2 separate regions of the Homo sapiens genome follow, and region 1 is linked to region 2. The links come from fine-mapping of genetic effects on gene expression. A gene starts in region 2. The other region holds a variant in brackets. All regions are shown on one strand. Distances are from middle to middle.

Region 1 (10,715 bases), 200 kb after region 2:
GCATGCTGAACATTATAGTTGCTACATAACTGGACATAGAGATTTTATTATCTTTAGAGAATATATTGAGTTTTGTTTCCACAAGCAGTCAAAATACTGGCAAATCACCTTGATCCTTTTGAGGCTTGTTTTTAAGCTTATTAGTTTGGGTCTAGAGTAGCTTTTACTCTATGGCTTTGGCCCTACCCCTAAACTGTGGTCTTTCTGAGATGTCAATGGAGTGTCCAAGGAGTTCAGTAAGGTTTCCACTCGCTTGTCCAGAACTTTTATCTCCTAGTAATCTATAAAATCTCCAGTTCACCTCTCCTTTGCAGCTCTTTTCTACTAGGCCTTGTAAGCTGTTATCTACAAGCTTAGTATTTGATCAAAGACTTAAGGGGAACCTTTTGCAGATTTCTGGAGCTCTTTTTTTCTTCTCCCCCTTATTCTGCCCCACAAACTCCAGCCATCTCAGAAGCCCCAAATTCTCTGCTTCTTCAGATCACTGAGACCACTGTTTCCAGCTTAGGCTCTGCCTCTCCATAACACAGTTTGGGAAGTGCCCTGGGTAGAGACAGTGACAGTGGGGTTTTCCCTTCTCTCAAGGATCTCAGTCTTACATGAGTATTAGTCAAAACCTGACATACATAAAACAGTGGCTTTATATATTTTCACAAGTTTTATGCTTGTTTATAGTAGGAAATCTAATCTTTGTCAATTACTCCATCATGACCTGAGCCTTTTTTCTTTTCTTTTTTTCTAAAGAAGAGCAATTTATTTTCTTACAGTTCTGGAGGCTGGAAGAGTACCATTCAATCCACAGTACACCTTGGAAAGGGCTCGGGATCTGAATTTTTAATGACCACCTCTAGTTATGGTTGAGGCAGTTGGTCACACAGTGTCTTCCATTGTCTGCCTGTGTTTTTATAGCCTTCTCTGTTGTGGCTGTAAGTCGAGAAGTGGTCAAGATGCCTTGAGCTTCTCATTGCTTCCCATATCCCTAAGCCCTTCCTTCCTTCCTAGCATTCATGCACACAGTTCCCTCTTGGAATCTTGTACTTTTCCCCATTACCTTTTTCACATATTTATGTGTTACATAAAACCAGAGCCATTGCTGCATGCATTTGAGCAAGGTGCTTAACTTCTCAGGGTTTGATTCTTTAACTCTAAAATGTCTATTCTGTTTCTTAAGTTTTACATGTATACTAAAGACAAGAGTGCTTTTGATTTCCCAGTTGCTTTGCCATTAAACTTAGACCACAGGACCCTTCAGCATGAATGACCAATAACCCAATTGTGTAGTACAAAAAGTACAGCTAGGTACCAAAAAAACAACTGGTTTATCTCTGTCACTACCTCTGCCACAGAAGCACTATTTGTGGGCCCTGTTTCTTCATTTGGTAAAATGAGGGGTTGATCCAGAAGAACTCTGAGGTACTTCCCACTTCTAACATTCTCTGATAATCAAGAGTTCACAAAGAAGAGAATACTTACTTCACTTCAGTTAATCAAAGAAGAGATATAAAAATCCTTAAGACAGTCTCTGGCCATAAGGACGAAAGCACCTAAGAAGCAGATTAGTATATGGTCTTTTTAACCTTTTTAAAGCTAATACAGTTTCAGCCATGTCTGCCTTACCTGTAATACCCATATGACAGTTGTGAAATGCATCTGTAAGACCATCACAGAGTATACTGTCAGTCAGTGGCATCTCACCTATCTTTACTCCTGTTCTCAAGTAAGCCAAGTGAGGAGCCTAGAAGTCAGAAATAAAAATGGATTTAGGCTTAGTTGCAATTAGTCTTCTCCCCAGAATACAACTCAAAACTATCTAGTATTTCCTAAGTCTTCATCTAGGCCCCTTTGCAGCCCTTCTCCCCAGTTCTAGGTCCTCAGCCAGGCCAAGGTCTAAAGACCCCTGGAATTAGCAGACTTCATCTTTCCTATTGTTGGGAACGATTACTCTCCTACCTACCCATTTTCAATTCTCCCTCAAACCTACCCATTCTGTGTCCTGTTTCCTTAAGAATTCCATTTATTCTTTCCATCGAGGCAATTAATTATCTGTTAAATGAAGAAATCCTCTAAGGGCTTAAGTAAAGCTAACAATGTGTTACCTATTTCAATGGATGACATAATGTCTACAGTGAGAATAATCAGGCTAACTAAATGATGGGGAGGGATTTCTGAGTAGCGGCCAGTCTTAACTCTCACCAACTCAACAGCAGGTATATTAGAATGGAAAGAGTCATTGATTGGACTTAGAGTCGGAAGAGTTGTATTTGAATGCTGGCTCTGGTCCTCAGTTTCCTTACCTGTAAACTGGGAATGGTATCATCTACCCTATATGGGGCTGTTGTGAACACATGTACAAAAGCACCTGGTAAAGTACTACACAGATGTCAGTATCATCCCATCAAAATCACTCCGATTATTTTTGTTACCTTTAGCCTGCCTCCTCCTGAACCTCAGCAATGGCTGGGCTGAATCAGCTTCTATCTAGGGAATCTGCACCTCAGCCCCTGAGCTGCATCAGTAGGAAGCAGGGGGTATAGTTTTTCTTTCAACCACTATGCCAGTTTGAGGTATGGAACTTGGTGAAACAAATCATGCCTGGCAAACCTACTGGAGAAGGGCACCACTTGGTGGTCCTCTTTTACATGTTCTATACCCTGAAAAGGTCAAAAAGTCTGGTCCCCAGGATCTCCTTGTCATGTGCAGGAAGGTAAGTGGCAACATCTGTTTTTTGCCTTTTACTCACAATGGGAAAGAAATTTAAAACCAAGGACATCAAGCAACTAATATGAATTTAATTCAGAAAATATTACATGCTTCATTAATAGTTTAGAAAAAGTATATTCGGTTCCAATCACACTGGTTGATAAACTTCTTATCAACCCGGATTTCCCACCCAAACTGAAGAATACTTCACATTCAAGTAGGGATCAAGGTTGTCATTTCTGTTTATTTGTTCACTGTTTGGTTCCAGCTCTGCTATGCATCTGTTTACTCTGTTCTGGCATAGACATGAGTTTCTCAGTGTGAGGTCAGTGAAAGCCACCTCATCAGAGAGGCCTTACCTTGCTCATATTTTCCATGCCTCCTGCAACCACAATGCTGGAGTCTCCTATCCCTATTGACTGGACTGCAAGGCACACAGCTTTTAGGCCTGACCCACAGATCATCTGGCAGCTCCATGCTGGAACAGAGTAGGGAATTCCTGCACCCACACTGGCTTGTCTAACAGGATTCTGCCCACAGCCTAGAAAGAGGAACACAGAGGACTCTTAGCAATCAAGGAGAAAGACAAAATGTCACAGTGAAAGTGTGTGGAAAATTGCCAGTTGGGTTACCTGCCACTTCTGAAAGCCTACAGGTCAAGTAAGTGCCCACTGGAGGCAAAAAGGCCTGTATACACTCTCCACCTGTCACAGTCTAGCCCTTGAATATATACTGCCTTGTGCTGCTCTGTAGGTATTTCATAGATATAAGCTTTCTCCTCCATAAATAAGTCATTAATACATTAAGAAAGAAGTGTCATCCTCATCTTTTGATATGGCTTAAATAGTTGGGCGCGGTGGCTCATGCCTGTAATCCCAGCACTTTGGGAGGCCAAGGAGGGCAGATCACCTGAGGTCGGGAGTTTGAGACCAGCCTGACCAACATGGAGAAACTCTGTCTGTACTAAAAATACAAAATTAGCTAGGCGTGGTGGCGCATGAGTGTAATCCTAGTTACTAGGGAGGCTGAGGCAGGAGAATTGCTTGAACCTGGGAAGCGGAGGTTGCGGTGAGCTGAGATCACACCATTACACTCCAGCCTGGGCAACAAGGGCGAAACTCCGTCTCAAAAAAAAAAAAGTGCGGGGGGGTGCTTAAATAAGCATTATCAAACCTATGTCTAATAAACACAGGATATAACCTAGGCATTATCAGTGTTTCTAACTAGGGCCATTTGCTCCCAAGATCATGGCTTAAGACACTTGAGAAGAAAAAGGGTTACTTAAAAAGGAAAACCTTTGATAATAAGCAGTTCTGTTCTTGCTTAGTATTCATTACACTATGCTTAAATGGTTATATAACAAAATATATACAAACTCAGAATTCACAAATACCTTTTTTTCTCATTCTGAGTACTGAAACACAAATATCTTTTCATAATTCAACTATGGGACTTCCTTTAGTTGGGAAGAAATACATAATTTACTTAAAGTAGCACAGAAGAGAATGGAGTTAAAAGTTTCAAATATTCTCAATCGCCATTGTCTGTTATCAGAGTCAATGGTAAATGTTTATAAAGTGGTTACTCTATTCCCAGTTTCAGATATACTCAAACCTACCACCCTTCCTTGGAGAGTTTGTGGGGAAGAACTAGCAAATAAGTCGCTGATAAAAACTTAGAGATTATATTCATCACAATGTTATCAATCTGGGATTAGGCTGGAAACTAAAAACGGGTAAGGTTACTTGAGACTGAAAACATATGCAGGATCATATACATATTAAAAAGACAGGCCCAGTGCGGTGCCTCAGGCTGTGAGCAGTGGCTCACACCTGTAATCCCAGCACTTTGGGAGGCCGGGGGAGGGGGGCGCATTACTTGAGGTCAGGAGTTTGAGACCAGCCTGGACAATATGGTGAAACCCCCCCTCTCTACTAAAAATACAAAAATTAGCTGGGCATGGTGGTGCACGCCTGTAATCCCAGCTACTCAGGAGGTTGAGGCAGGAGAATTGCTTGAACCTGAGACAGAGGTTGCAGTGAGCCGAGATTGTACGGCTGCACTCCACCAGCCTGGGCGACAGAGTGAGACTCCATCTCAAAAAAAAGAAAAAGAAGAAATGAGGTACAGGGCTGGGCATGGTGGCTCATGCCTGTAATCCCAGCACTTTGGGAGGCCGAGGCGGGTGGATAACTTGAGGTCAGAAGTTCGAGACCAGCCTGGCCAACATGTTGAAACCCCATCTCTACTAAAAATACAAAAATTAGCTGGGCACAGTGGCAGGCACCTGTAATCCCAGTCACTTGGGAGGCTGAGGCAGAAGAATCACTGGAACCCGGGAGGCAGAGGTTGCAGTGAGCCAAGATTGCGTCACTGCACTCCAGCCTGGGCAACAGAGTGGGACTCCATCTCAAAAAAAGAAAAAGAAAGAAATGAGGTGCTAACACAATTAATAATGCTAGCATTTAGCATACTACGAGCTTCATGAGAATGAGAATTTCTATCTGATATGAACATTGCTTATCTCCAGCTGCTAAAATAGTGCCTGGCACAAAGTAGGTGCTCAATAAACATTTGTTACATGATTGTAGAAGGTATCTGGCTCAAGGAATAGGACAGATCTAAGTTCAAGTGCTAGCTCCACTTCAAACTGTGACCCTGGTAAGTCATTTAACCTCTTAAACTCTCATTTATTCATTTGTAAAATGAAGATAATAGGATATAACAGACTTGTGAGGAAGATTAAATGAGGTAATGAAAGGAAAGCATTTAGCACAGTGCTTTAAAAGCCTTAAACTTAGTAGACATGCACCGGTAGTCCCAGCTAGCTCAGAAGTTCAAGGGCATGGTGCACCATGATTGTGCCTGTGAACAGCCATTGCACTCACGCCCAGGCAACAGACAGACTCCACTTCTACAAAAAAATTTAAAAAATTAGCCAGGTGTGGTGGCCTGCTCCTGTAATCCCAGCTACTCCAGAGGCTGAGGTGGGAGGATACCGTGGAGCCCAGGAGTTTGAGGTTATAGTGGGCTACGATTGATTACACCACTGCATTCCAGCCTGGACAACAGAGTGAGACCCTGTCTCTTTAAATAATAATAATAATAATTAATTAATTAATTACGAGTGTTCAAACCCAAAGAATCAGAAGATGGGGGCACTCTCAGGACTCAGCTATATTCCTCTGGGGAGTGATATGCCCCATTTGCAAGGGGCATGATGTGGCACCTATTTTCCAAGCTCAGAACTGAGCCCTAAGAGGGCAGGGAACTTACCTGTATTGTTGGAACCATACTCCCAGCACTAAGCACAGTATGGGGCACATAGGAGGAACTGAATACATTTTTGTTGAATGAGTGACACTTTGAGGTAGTAAGGAGGAGCAGGCATACTTTCCTATGCGTCAGGCTGGCCCTGCTGCTGCT[T/G]CTTCTTCTTCTTTTTAAAAGGAGTCTCACTCTGTTGCCCAGGCTGAATGGAGTGCAGTGGCACAATCTCAGCTCACTGCAAGCTCCGCCTCCCGGGTTCACGCCATTCTCCTGTCTCAGCCTCCCAAGTAGCTGGGAATACAGGCGCCCGCCACCACACCCGGCTAATTTTTTGTATTTTTAGTAGAAACGGGGTTTCACCGTGTCAGCCAGGATGGTCTTGATCTCCTGACCTCATGATCCGCCCACCTCGGCCTCCCAGAGTGCTGGGATTACAGGCGTGAGCCACCGGGCCCGGCCGGCCCTGCTTCGTAAGAATGAAAAGGCAGTGGGCCGCCTGTAGTCCCAGCTACTCGGGAGGCTGAGGCAGGAGAATGGCGTGAAACCGGGAGACGGAGCTTGCAGTGAGCCGAGATCACGCCACTGCACTCCAGCCTGGGCCACAGAGAGAGACTCCGTCTCAAAAAAAAAAAAAAAAAAAAAAAAAAAAGGAAAAGAAAAGGCAGTGTAGGTGGTGTAGGTCAGTGGTCTAAGTTCATTCACAAAAAGCATATTAATGAAGCTAAGTCTTTTTGTTTGTTTAGAGAAGGGGTCTCACTCTGTCACCCATGACGGAGTGCAGTGACACAATCACTGCAGTCTCAAACTCCTGGGCTCAAGTGATCCTCCCACCTCAGCCTCTCCAGTAGCTGGGAGGCACAGGCCATCATACCTGGCTATTTTATTTTTTGTAGAGACGGGGTCTTGCTTTGTTGCCCAGGCTAGTCTCAAACTTCTGGACTCAAGTGATCCTTCCTCCTCCGCCTCCCAAAGTGCTGGGATTACAGGCGGGAGCCACCCTGCCTGGCCAAGAAGCTGAGTCTCAAGCTGGATAGAAGCTACTGACAGGGCTGGAAGAAGGGGGCCAACAGGAGGAATCATAACAGAGGGAACTCTGAGCAAAAGCAAGGAGGCAAGAACTTGAGTGAGTGAGAGAGTGTGTGAGTGTGTGAGAGTGTGTGTGTGTGTGTGTGTTTATGGGCTGTTTCTAATAAGCCTGACTTCTCCTGGAATCACTGAGACTTACCTGCTGCCAAGACATGTCCAAAGATGACCTCAGACACATCTTCCGGAGCCACAGTGGCCCTCTTCAAGACTTCTTTGATGACAGTGGAGCCCAGGTCCTGGACAGGAACAGCAGCTAAGGCACCATTGAAGGAACCTACAATAGAAAGGCGGAGAGCGTGGACATCACAAGCCTGCGGGTAATACGGGAACCACCTACGAGCAGGGGAGCCTCATGACCCTGTTTGGCAAGGCCACGCGAGGAGGCAGTGCCCTCTCCTCCCACACGTTCCTACACCTGCTGGTCTGAGCAAAGGTCAAGGTGGGTGCCACAACTCGCAGCAGCCGAGGGCTGGACAGGCGACCTCCAGAACGGCCTAGGGACGCCGCTGTAGCCCTTCTATTTCCCCAAATCCGAAGGACTGGATGCGACCCCATGCTTCCCAAACAAAAGGAACCGGCGGGTCAAGGGCGTTGAAAACCATGCGGCACGAAGGAGACGAAGTCACGACTTCTAGCCATTGTGTGACAGCCCGACCCCAGCCCAAAGCCGGGCTCAGACCACCTAGCAGTTCCGCCCCTGCCGCAGGCATTACCGATGGCGCCTCCCGGAGCCGGCCAATCAGGGGCCCCGGAGGAGAACACCTCCCTACGCCAACCAATGGGAGAGGCAGGCCACGCGATGGCTCTACCCCGGGAGCCAATCCAAGCACGAGGGACGGAGTGCGCACATCGGGAGAGGAGAGGGTGGGGCTGTAGCACCAGGTCAGGGAACGCGGGAGCCGCAGGGTTCCAGGGATCCCGCGGCTCCTCGCGGCTTGGCCTGACCGGCTTCCTCCACATACGCCCCTCTCCTACACAAGTCCGGCCCTCGGCGCTCCTGCCGAAGCAGCAGGCGCCTCGGACTCTGCGCGGCTCCCGCCGGCCACTCACCTATGATGGTCCGCGCCGCCGAGACGATGACCACAGGATCTGAGCCTGCATTCATCTTGCTTCTCCTGCCGCCGTCTGCCCTGCGCTGCCTGCAAGCTAGGCAAAGCTCCTCCTCGCAGCCCACAGGCCTGCCGCGGGCGGGACCTGAGGTAGCCCCGCCCCTCGCCCTCCACCTCCCCGCGCACCACCTCCCCGCGCATCCCACTGTGCGCAGGCGCAAGGCCGGAGCAGGGGCGGGCGGAGGCGCGCGGGGCGCGGGGCGCGGGGCGCGGGGCGGAAGTGAGGCCGGGGCGCGGGGCGCGGGGCGGAAGTGAGGCCGGGGTCTGGGCTTGCGGGCAGAACCGCGGACCTCGGACGCATTTACAGAGCGCCTGAAACCCCAGTGTTTCTGGACACCCCAATGTTGGAGTTCCCCGACTTGACGTCTTGGGCTTTTTTTTAAAAAATCTTAGGGTTTCTCGAAACAGTAAAGACTGGGGGGTGACAAAGACTTATCTCTCGTTCAGCTCAGGACTGGAATCCCACGGGCGAGAATCTCGAGTGCGAGCCCGGCCCGCGGCGGGTCTCAGCACAGCTCTGATGGGTCCTTTTGCTCTCGGCGGCTTCGGGAGGTCCTATGCGTTTCTCCTGGCGCCAGTCATTCGCTCGCGTGAGGGGCTTGCTAGGAGCGTCTCGGTGCGAGCCCCCTGCCTTCTAAGATCAACTCTGGCTGTGAACGGGTGAGGACGCCGGGAGCGTCTTAGCGTCACAAAAGTTCCTTTGGTTGACGTTTGGACAGTGAAAGGAGCATGTAACAAGTGGGGTCAGTTTTGTTTAAAACCCTTTCTGACTTCCCAGCCTCTTACTGGGCAAAGTTCATAATTTTTCTGAGCTTTCTAGGGTTTCCAGGCAAGCTTATGAGGGGCCACCGTTACAGCAACTTGTTGGGAACACCTGGATAGTGGAACAAGAAAGCTTTGTCACAAAGTCATGAAGGGGAAAACTGTTGACGGACCTGGAGAATCTTCCTGAAGAACTTTAAAGTTGATTGAAAGAATCATTAAATCCTGGAAACCTACATTAAGACTTTGCAGAGATATGCGGATGGGTCAGATAAATCAGAGAAGGTAAAGAGTGTAGGCCCCAGAGGTGGGGCAATAGAGAAGGAAAAAAATTGCATAACAGTGCAATTTCAGGAGAAATCTTTAGGGTCTGGAATAGTGGTGAAATCAGCTGTCTACTCTGCTAAGAACTCAGCAGCACACTGAAGTCTCTTCAGTTGTCTTCAATGTGTTTCCTGTCCCCTAACATATCTGAGTCCAAGGAATTCAAGGAATGCCTCCCGTGGCTTTTGCTCTATTCTATCCCATTTTCCCCTTACTCCCTGGCCACTTCTGAGTCTTTGTGGGCTTACTCTCACATCCCCTTAACATGTTCCCCAAGGCTCCTACTTTGCACCAGCTCCCTGGGTAATACCAGTCATTCCTACGGCATCAATCACCACCTGTATACTGACAAGTCTGAAATCCTTACATCTAACCTCGTCTCCTAAGCTGACTGACCCTCTTCATTTAAATTCTTACAAGCACATCAGGTCGGGCACCTTGGCTCACACCTGTAATCCCAGCACTTTGGGAGGCCGAGGAGGGCGGATCATTTGAGGTCAGCAGTTTGACACCAGCCTGGCCAACATGGTGATATCCCGTTTCTACCATAAAATAGAAAAATTAGCCGGGCGTGGTGCCGTGCGCCTGTAATCCCAGCTACTGGGGAGGCTGACATGGGAAAATCGCTTGAACCTAGGAGGCAGAGGTTTCAGTGAGCCGAGATCACACCACTGCACTCCAGCCTGAGCGACAGAGAGAAACTGTCTCAAATAAATAAAATTTCCTATAAGCACATCAAATTTGACATATTGAAACCAAACTCTTCCAGCCTGTTTCTTCTGTAATCTCAGTGAGCAGTGAAACTATCTTCTGTTAACCAAACCAGAAATTTACCTCTGAAACTCCCCCTAAACATCACTTCTTCCAGAAAAACCTTCCAATCTCCTGCATTTGGTGCAGCATCTTACCCCTAACTTCCTCTTTCAACTTACCATGTAATTCCTAGTTTATCTGTCTCCTCTACTGACTACATAAGCTTTCCAAGATGATCCTGTTACACTGCTTTATGCACAGCTCCTAGCACATTATAGGCAGTTATGAATGAACACCAATATTCTTTATGGCCAGTGCCTAGCACATTTGAATGAGTATGAATATATTCTTCTGGAGCCAAGGGATATAGAGTTTCCTGCCTGAAGGCTCTATCTAGAGTAAGTTTAGGAGCCAATCTTGAGAAGGTAATTGCATGCTTCTGCTGAGTGGCCAAACAGAATCTGTCCCCTGAGGAGTCCTCATTATAGCTACTCATATGATTATCTACTCATATGAGACAGACAGAGACTAAGAATAATGAATGAAGGAAAGAAGAGGAATTTTTTTTTTTTTTTTGAGACGGAGCTCGCTCTGTCACCCAGGCTGGAGTGCAGTGGCGCTATCTCGGCTCACCACAACCTCCACCTCCCGGGTTCAAGCGATTCTTCTGCCTCAGAGTCCTGAGTAGCTGGGATTACAGGCCCGTGCCATCAT
Region 2 (10,486 bases):
ACAGTGGAGACCTGGCCGAGTTATTTACATTTCAGCAAACTGATGCCCAGGAACAAAATTAAAATGGAGCTTAACACGTCACACCTTGGTGACACGATAAAATTTTTTGTATCAAATTAAAAAAAAAATCAACTTACATTCCTATTCCTCAACTACATGCTACATTTACGGAAATTTTAGCCAGTTTTATCTCATAAAAGTACAGATGACTGATAACCTCCCCCGCCCCAAGAAAAGTTTTCAAAAAGTATTTAAGGAGAGGTATCAGTTTAAAACAGGAACATAAACCCAGCATGGTGCCTCATGCCTGTAATCCCAACACTTTGGGAGGCTGACGCAGGAAGATTACTTGAGGATAGGAGCTTGAGGCCAGCCTGGGCAACATAGCAAGACGTCATCTCTATTAAAAATTTTAAAAAATATATAATAAGCCAAGTGGGGTGGCACACACCTGTAATCCCAGCTACACAGAAGGGTGAGGTGGAAGGACTGCCTGAGCCCAGGAGTTCACGACTGTAGTGAGCTATGACTGCACCACTGCACTTCTGCCTGGGCAACGCGGTGAGACCCTGCCTCAAAAAATTATAAAACAGGAACAGACAGGAAGTTCACTTGGCACATGTTGGGTTTAAAGTAGAGATTGCAAGTGGTTCTGGAGAAGTCTGCATGTGCAACTACAGGGAAGTAACAGGGAAAGAGGTGGGTGAAAATCCGTCTCTGAAATGATTGGCAGATTTGTCATCCTAAGAAAATCTGGCAGAAAAATTAAACACAACTTTTAAGATATTCTAAGACTACAAAGGGCAGATCTTATTATATTCACAATGCATATCAACCTCAGAAACCTCTTCAGCATTTGCTAAGTATGCCCACGTGTGACAGTGGCCAGAAAAACGTAAAGATACAAAGGCCATTCCTACTAGACCAAGAGGCCGTGTTCCACCTGGAGATGAAGTTCGTGAACACAGGTTCAAGACACTGCCATGACTAACCTAATGCAAAAGTAAGGGTCCCATCAATCAGCCAAAGTATCAGTCTGCCCTTGAAGCCACCTTAATCTTAACTGTGAAGAAAACAAACTTCAATTTGTTAACAAGACCAAGACTTCAACCACACTAGGCCAGCTGGGTTAATTTCTTATTGTATTTATTTATTTATTTTTGAGACAGGGCCTTGCTCTGTCGCCCAGACTAGAGTGCAACTCGACTCGATCACAACTCACTGCAACCTCGACCTGCGGGGCTAACGTTATCCTACCACCTCAGCCTCCCTTAACTGGGAGGACAGGAGTGTGCCACCGCGCCCGGCTCTAATTTTCATATTTTTTGTAGAGACGGGGTTTCGCCATGTTGCTGAAGCTGGCCTCCAACTCCTGGACTCAAGTGACCCGCCCACCTCGGCCTTCCAAAGTGCTGGATTCCGGGCATGAGCCACCGCGCCCAGGCGAGTTAATTTCTTATTTTTGGTCACAGAAGCCATTATTCCAAAATGCCTTCCTCTAAATGTTGTTCTCAGCCTGACCTCGTTTAAGCTGCCACCATTTCTCTGTATCATACTAGTTACTGGAGTAACTATGTATCTTAGGGTAGCTAACTGGTCTTTAAACTAGTGTCACAAACTCTCCCTCCATCCACCCTTCCCCTTCCAAAAAAGGGAGCATAAAAAATATGGGCCTTTCCAAAGAGTTTCTATCGTGAGATCAGCCTCACCCTCCTTAGACTAATTTCTGCATGTTCTGAACACAGGGGTGCTAATAAAACTATCTCTGATGCATGGGAAAAATAAGAACCCCCCCCATAAACCCTACCACAAACTCCAAGTTCAGCCCAAAGTAGGCTCAACTTTGTTTCACTCTGAAAAGTAACTTGTAAAAGTAACTTGTAAAAGTAACAGTAACAGGGAGAAACTGTTGTCTGTTCAAAACTTTTCATCCTGCTTCCTTTTTACCAAAGTTTAAAAAAATAAACAAAAGCTGAATTTTCCATCATCCTAAACAGTCCAGAAAAGGATGGTCAGAAAATTCCTGAAATTCGAAGTTCCCCAGGCCCTGGACTGCTAGCAGTTGCGCGAGGTGAACAGCCCTCGATGGGACTGATGGGTTATACAATCATGGTTCCCAGAGCAAGATCCACTAGAATAATCCGCCCCGGAGACAATGACATCATGTGAGCAACCAGGCAGGAAGTTGGGCTCAGAGAAGTGAAGGGTCAAGTCTTGAAAGCTCACACTGGACGACACCCCCTGCCCCCAATCTAAAGAAGACAAAAGTCACCGCCTGCTAAAAATATATATATATATATATTCTTTAAAGAGAAAATGAGCCCACGGGGGGAAATCAATCAGCAAATGAAACCACAAACACTCAACTCCAGGACCATTCCTGCGGGCTCCAACGCCCCGGTGAGCCTCTCCACACCGAGGGGCCTCACCGGTGCCCCGCTGGCGAAACTCTGATGCAAACGCGCAGCGGGAACAAAGCAAACTGGAGTTCCTGCCTCCAACTTTCCCGGACGCCCGGCCGCGCGAGGGCAGGCGCCGACCCCAAGGGCCGGGGCGACCGCTCCGCACAAAGCCACCCCCGACTCAGCGACAGCCACAAGTGGCCGGACGCGGGGCTCCAGGACCGCCACGACCGCGTGTGCCCCCGCGCCCCCCGCCTGCGCACGGGACCCGGCGGGACTCGCGGACACCACGCAGGCAACTTTCCCTCGGGAACGGGGCGGACCCCGGCGCGGAACGGAGGCGACTTGGAGACCCCAGGAGCTCCTCGAGCGCTCCCCGCCCCCCACGCCGGCCGCTCACCCCGGGCACCGCGAGCGGAGCCTGCGTCCGGGCGGGCCACCCACCTGCACAGCTCGGGGAACGGGGCGGCCTGGGCCTGCGTGGACCCCGGGGCAGCGACGAGCAGCAGCAGCTGCAGCAGGAGCAGAGAGCGCTGCGGGCGGCGGGCGGGCGCGGGCCCCAGGTGGGGGCTCCGGCCGGCGGCGGCCCCCATCGCGCCGGGCCCGGACTGCGCGGCGGGCGCGAGGCTAACGGCGCGCGACTGCTGGGGGCCGCGCCCGGGACGGGGTCGCGCCGCCAGGGCAAAGGCGGAGGTGGAGACGGAGCGGGAGCCCGAGGTGAGCGCGGCTCGACTGGGCTCGGCGACAGCGACAGCGGCAGCGGCGGCCCCGGAACCGCGTCACGTGACAGCCGCCCGGCACCGCCCCCCCACCCCCGCCCCCCGCTCACGTGACTCCCTTGTTCAGGTGACCCCCGCCCGCCCCGGCTCCTCCCAGGCCCGGGTCACGTGAGCGCAGCGCGCGGGACAGGAAGCGGCGCGGGCGGGGCGCAGGCTCCAGGTGCCTCCCGGGGCCTGAGCCTCTCGGCGGGCTGGGCGCGGCGGGGGTGCCTAGCCGGGCCTCAGTTTCCCCTCCCACCGCGCCCTGCTGGATCGTGGCGGGTGCTTCCCAGGTTAGAGCAACTGTTCCCAACCTCGATCGACCAGTAGGGGAAAATAGGGAACTTGGATCAAAGTGCCAGGGAGGTAAATGCCTTCGCACAGCCTAGTGGCAGCGGATCCGTGGGGGGTGGGAACACACTTTAACTGCCCGTGGAGTCAAATCATGGGGGTTTACAACCTTGGCCCGTCAGAGCCTCTCAGACCTTCTGTGGGAATGTTATTTCCCAAGCGTGGGCTTCCTACAGCAAGGAAGGCAGCACAAATCCAGCAAGGTGAAAGAGTGGACAAAAGTGTCGCTGTCAAGCAAGTGCCACTCAACAAAGCTTTATTAATTCACTACGTGGATGGCCATGAGCTAGCCACAATGAAAGTAGAACGATGAATCTAAAAGTCTTGAACTAAAAAAATTCACTTTCTTTTAGAGTAAATATACAAAATAATCATGACTGAAAATAGTAATCATCATCATCATAAAAGCTCATCTTTTTTAGTGCTTATTCCATACCAGACACTGCTAAGCATGTAAGCATGAATCTTTAAAAACCTATGAGATGGGAACCTACTTATAGATGAGGAATTGAGGCACAAGGATACTCAGTGACTTACTCAAAGACACTCTGGGATGTGGCAAAGCTGGAATTCAAACACATATAAATAATCATGACCCAATAATAGCTAACATTTCTTGAGCAAGTAATTATGTACGAAGTACTGAAGTGTTCGGACACTGTGATTTAGCTCATTTAATCCTAACAGTCCTGTAAGAGGGGGTGCCTTTATTGCATCCGTTTTGCAGATAAGGAAAGTGAGGAATGGAGAAATTAAATAACTAGTTAGTCTTGCAGCTAGTAAGTGAAAAAGCCCGGGTTTGAGCCCAAGCCAGTCACAGGCCTGTGACATAACCACCGTGCTATTAATATATTGCCCAAGAAAAGAAAGTGTTGTAGTGGGTCAAAGGGAGAGCTCAGGTGTAAACTGTGGACGTCGAAAAAGGGTTTGTGGTGACCGGGCGCGGTGGCTCGCGACTGTAAACCCAGCACTTTGGGAGGCCAAGGCGGGCGGATCACAAGGTCAGGAGATCGAGACCATCCTGGCTAACACAGTGAAATCCCATCTCTACTAAAAATACAAAAAATTAACCGGGCGTGGTGGCACACGCCTGTAGTCCCAGCTACTCGGGAGGCTGAGGCAGGAGAATCGCTTGAACCCAGGAGGCAGAGGTTGCAGTGAGCAGAGATCGTGCCACTGCACTCCAGCCTGGGAAACAGAGCGAGATTCCATCTCAAAAAAAAAAAAAAAGAAAAAGGGTTTGTGTTTTGCAACTCCAGTGTTATAATGGATACAGGCAAAGACCATCAGTAAATACTAAAACCATCTGGTGAAAAATTATTGTGAAGCGGAATATTCTCTTTGTCTCAAAGTATCACCTTCAAAGTATACTTCCTTAAAAAACACAAAATACCTCTTCACAATGGAAAGATCTGGTAGAACCACCTTAATCAAGTAATTAAAACTAGTATCACCAATTTTTAAAAAACTAGCATTTTCTGCTTTCTAAAGTGATGCAATAAAAAATGCTAAAGGGTAATATTTAAAAGATGGTATAATCATGACTCAGATGTAGAATGAACATGTATCAAAGGTATTCCTTAGCTCATTCATTAATGTGAGAACCGGTAACATGTCACAGCTGGTTCAAAGGAAAATCCAAGGAGAATCCAACAAATATTCAAGCAGTTAGGAATGCTGAAATAAGGTTGTCTATAGATGGAAAATTGGTCAGTAACCATAGGTCAAAAAACAGCTGCGTACGCAATAGACACAATTTGCATTTCTAAAGACAAAAATCGTGTATATTACCATCAGTAGTCTACAATTTACAGAGTTGTAAAATACCTCAAAGACAGTGGCAGACACAAGACCCCATAGAATCAGATAACCCAAAAGACTGTACTAAACAGCTAGCATTCCATTACAGTTGACCACTAATATTTTTGGTCCATTTCAAAGTCTTTCACAGTTATTCCCTACCGTACACACTATCACAAGTAGTCTTGCCAAGAAGTTCAACTTAATCTAATTGAGATAAAACAATCAAATTCAAACTGTGAAACATATGACAAGAAAACTGAACTGGACTATTGCAAAATATTAATGCGCTGAAAAAACAACTCTCCTCCAAAAAAAAAAAGAGAAAAAAAGTGGAAGTGCTACTCTAAATCCATGTAGCAAGCAATAACCTGTGGGTCAAATGTGGTAAGGCAGCTGTTTTGTAAATAAAGTTTTGTGGGAATACGGCCACACCCATGTGTTTATGTATTATCTAGGGCTGCTTTTGCCTGCAATGACACAGTTGAGTCGTTGCAACAGAGACTGTATGACCTGAAAATGCTAACATATTTTACCATATGGCCCTCCGCAGAAAAAGCTTGCCAACCTCTGTTCTAGATCAGTGGTTTTCAAAAGTGCGGTCCTTAGACAAGCAACTTTTGTGTCACCTACCAGCTTGTTAGAAATGCCATTTCATGGGTCCTGCCTCAACCTATTGAATGAAAATCTCTGGAGATGGGCACCAGGAGATTGCTCTAGCAAGCTCTCCAGGAGATTCTCATACACATGGAAGTTTGGCACCGGGAGATTGCTCTAGCAAGCTCTCCAGGAGATTCTCATACACGTGGAAGTTTGGCACCAGGAGATTGCTCTAGCAAGCTCTCCAGGAGATTCTCATAAACGTGGAAGTTTGGCACCAGGAGATTGCTCTAGCAAGCTCTCCAGGAGATTCTCATACACATGGAAGTTTGAGAACCATTGTCCTAAATTAAAGGAGACTAAAAAGGCATGACAAAATGCAATGCGTGATTCTTACTTGGAGCCTAGACCCAAAAATAGGAAGGTATAAGGGACATTTGGAGACCACTGGAAAATTTTTAATGTAAATCCTATATAAGGGACTTTAAAGCAGCAGTCCCCAACCTTTTGGCACCAGGCACCAATTTCGTGGAAGACAATTTTTCCATGGATGGTGGAGGGCTGTTGTGGGGGATGTTTCATCAGGCATCACAAGGACAGTCCACCCTAGACCCCTCTCATGCACAATAGGGTTTGCACCACCACTTATCTGACAGGAGGCGGAGCTCAGCGGTAATGCCCTCGTTCTCCTGCTGTGCGGCCAGGTTCCTAACAGGCCACAGACCAGTACAAGTCCATGGCCCGGAGGGTTGGGGGACTCCTGCTGTAAAGTCAAATACTGCAGGGCATAATTCTCCTGTATTTCATTTAAATTTTCTGAAAAACCTTTGAGGAAGCAGAGACTCACAGATATCAGCCTAAGACCCCCTGTTATAGGCTGAATTGTGTCCCCTAAAAGAATACGTTGAACTCATAACCCCCAGTACTTCAAGTGTGACCTTATTTGAAAATAGGGTCATTCCTTATGGATAAATTATGATGAGGTTATACTAGAGTAGGGTGGGTTCTTAATCCAGTATGACTGGTGTACTTTCAAGAAGTGGGCAAGAAACACACAAGGAGAAGGCAGCCATATGAGAATGGAGGTGCTATGCATCTACAAGCCAAGGAACACCAAGGATTGCCAGCAACACCAGAAGCTGGGACAAAGGCATGGAACAGATTCTCCCCTAGAGCCTTCAGAGGGAGCGTGACCCTGCCAATGCCTTGGTTTTGGACTTCCGGCCTCCAGAACTGTGTGAGACAATTTCTGTCATTTTAAGCCACCCAGAGGTACTTTGTTATGGCAGCCTAAGAACACAAATAGCCAAGAACACAAATGTCCCTCAAATGATAGGACAGATCCAGGCTTGGCATCCAGGTGCTCCAACCACCGCCCTGTTGTGAGGACCCAATCTTCCTGCATCTGACTTTGGAAACACAAGCTCAAATGACAGACCAAGGGCAGAAAGAGCAGCTACTGAGGATGTCCCTGCATGATGTCAAGAGCAATAGCAGGGACAGGTAACACTAATAGCTGCCCCTTTGGAACACAAACCATGAGCTATCAAACTGATGGCATGCACACATTGTTCTGAAACTCAAACAGAATCTCACCCCAAAGATCCAGGAACTTTTTAGAACACCCAGAAAGGAACATGATTCTACCAAAAGACCCTCAAAACACACAGTGATTCATTTTAGGCTTCTTGATTTCTAAGATCATAAACTGCCAAGAAAAAATGTACAGTAAATAATATTGAATCAATGTTAAATTTCATAAGATAAAGCTACTGTGATTACATAGGACGATGTGCTTGTTCTTATGTGATACATGCTGAAAGTGAAGTGTCATGATGTTGGCAACTTTCAAATGATTTCAGGGGAAAAAAAGAATATATGTATGAATAGCAAGCAGAGGTTAAAAATATTAACAGTCACAAATGTAGTGAAGAATATATCAGTGCTCTTGTACTATTCTTTCAACTTTTCTATAGGTTTGACATTTTTCAAAATGAGAATTGGGAAAGAGATCTCATCATGAAAGAGATTGCTTTTGAGTGAATCTGGAAGAATGGGGGAAATTTAGGGAAAGGACATTGTAGGCACAAAGAACAGCAAGTGCAAGGCCATGGTAAAATACAGAAGCTGTATTTGCTGTACAAGGCCTTTTGCTTAAGCAAAAGTCACATGGGAATAAAGAAAAACTACTTTTGGCCAAAAACTGTGCTAGATCCTGGGCTCATAAAATATAATCCCTCCCTCAAGGAGCTCGCAGTTTAGGACGTAGTCAATTTTTATATAAGTTTGAAAATTTTTATTGTGCCCAGCTCCTAGAGGATCTTAAATGGTCATCTAATAAGCTTAGATTTGGCTGGATATGAAGTAGGGAACAATAACAGCAGATACAATAATACATACTGAAGGCTCACTGTCAATACCATTCCTGTATTATATCATTTACTGTTAATACCAATCCCACCAAATAGGTAATTTTATTACCCTCCTTGAAAAGATGAGCAATTCAGTCATAAAGAAATTATATACCTTGCCCAAGGTCATGCAGTTGGTAAGTGACAGCGCTTGGATGTGAGCTGTATGATCTGGGACCAAAGCCCATGCAGTTAACTCATCAACTGCCTCCTCATTGAGAGATTTGGAGAAAGAGAGATGTTCACGGTGACACATCAGGAAAATCCATCTGGTTTTAAGATAGACTGGAAGCTAATTTATTAAAAGTATCACAATTAAGGTGACAAATTCGACAGCAGAAAGCCTTGTGTCCTTCAAAAACACCCAGTTCCCAGTTAGTTAACACCTGGCCAGGTAACTATCAAAGATAATGCCCTAAGGCTTTGGCATGGGAATTTAGAGGGGAATAGGGTTAGAGGCATGAGGCAGGTGTGGTTGGCTGCCTTCCTGCAGGCATCTCATGCCCTTGATTGCTGGCAAAGCCCACCTCCACCAGAGGCTGTGGGTGTGAGATTCTCACTTCCCAGACATTCTTACAGCCAGAGCAAGGGCGTATGACCCAGTCCTGATGATGGAACTCGATGGGAAGTCTCCTGAGATCTTCTGCAAAATGCTTTCTCTCCAATAAAAAGAGTTGCAAAACAGAAATCCCTTCCCCTTTTGTGTTTTTTTGTTGTCTGGATGCAGTAATTTCTATATGAAACTGCTGTCCCCTCATAACTGTGAGGGAAAATGTGGCCAACACAGTGGGAACAAGACGGAAGACATCAGGATCCTGAATGACACTGGTCCACTTCACCAAAACTCTTGTATCCGATCTTTTGTTTTGTGATAGAATAAATAAATATGCCTAAGCCAAGTGCATGTGTTATTAATGTATTGCCTCTCTGCTTTGAATGCATCTTCTAGTATATGCTCTGTGATAAAGGAATCCATTTAAGCAGTTCTCCTTTCAACTAAATGACATTAAGCTTTCTGAGCAGAGGACACTGGAGGCAAACTGCAGAAGAGATTCTCCTGCTGTTCCCAGGACATCCATACCATGAGGTGCTGACCACCTGCTCCCCAACTTGCATACTAGTGCAGGCCAGCTCCAGCCTGGCCAGTCTGCTATCCAATAAATGGAAACAAACCTTTTCCCATGAAATCTGAATGCCTTCAGATCTGAAGGCTTGTCATTCCTTGAGTCCTCTCCGTCAGCCTGAGGGACTATGTAGAGTTTTCTTACATCTTACAGTTACTCCTTCATCATAGTTAGTAATTATTTATATTAAGACTCCCCTGTTTCTACCTCCTGATTGGCCCCAAAATGCCACACCATGATTAGCTAACTTTTGTATTTCTTGCAGCCAAAATCATACCAACTGACCCAATGCAGCACTTAGCAACCTGTTGGGTAGGACAGACAGGAAAGAAAGAGTCAATGATGATCAACGCTTGTAGACAGGTAGATTGGTTCCAGAGAACAGAGAAAACAGAAGAGAAATGAATCTGAGGAGCAAGACGCTAAGTATCTTTTTGTGCAATAGCAAGTCTAGGTATTCAGAGGTGACCACTAGACAACTGGTAATGCAACACTGAACACAGGCAGGAAGCCTGCATTGAATGTAATTATGGGGAGGCACTTGCAAAGATGGGAGAGTTGACTTGGGAGGAAGGTGATGAGAAGGATAACAAGACATTGGCATAGTGAAAGAAATTGCCAGGGAGAGAACAAAAGAGAAAATAGGCTCTTAGTATTAACTGTCTATCAGTGTGTAATAAATTACCCTCAAATCCAGTGGTGTAACACAACAACCATCATTTATTAATTCTCACTAGTGAGAATTAATGGGGTCAGGAATTTAGACAGGGTCCAGTCGGAATGGCTCATTTCTGTTTTAAGACTTCTGGGCCCTCAGCTTTAAGACTTGAAGGATGGAAACTGGTATCATCTGAAAGATTTTCACTTGCACATTTGATGGTTGGTGCTGGCTGTCAGCTGAGACCTTAGCTGGAATGCCTGCATATAGCCTCCACATGTGGCCGGAGTTTCTTCAGCTGTGGTAGCTGGGTTCCAAGTCAAGCAAAAGGAGAGAGAAGGAAGAGTAAGCGAGGTGGAAGCTACATCCTTCTTATGACTCA

Evidence for each region.
Region 1: its variant is fine-mapped to the expression of IGF2R in caudate (GTEx, PIP 0.97).

Annotation. Positions count from the first base shown.
Region 1 is chr6:159,759,531-159,770,245 of GRCh38, reverse strand. It overlaps ACAT2 (acetyl-CoA acetyltransferase 2), which reads right to left and starts at 8,201. Exons shown (of 9, transcript NM_005891.3): 1 at 8,104-8,201; 2 at 7,193-7,327; 3 at 3,060-3,241; 4 at 1,618-1,735. The coding sequence starts at 8,158. SOD2-OT1 (SOD2 overlapping transcript 1) reads left to right here and starts at 7,914. Exons shown (of 2, transcript NR_037166.1): 1 at 7,914-8,252; 2 at 8,610-9,988. It also overlaps a transcript of SOD2 not described here. RefSeq lists enhancers at 6,320-6,820, 8,889-8,948 and silencers at 8,229-8,378, 8,399-8,458. The variant T/G (reference allele first, on the strand shown) is at 6,127.
Region 2 is chr6:159,961,756-159,972,241 of GRCh38, reverse strand. It overlaps IGF2R (insulin like growth factor 2 receptor), which reads right to left and starts at 3,160. Exons shown (of 48, transcript NM_000876.4): 1 at 2,847-3,160. The coding sequence starts at 2,995. RefSeq lists silencers at 2,540-2,669, 2,690-2,969, 2,980-3,599.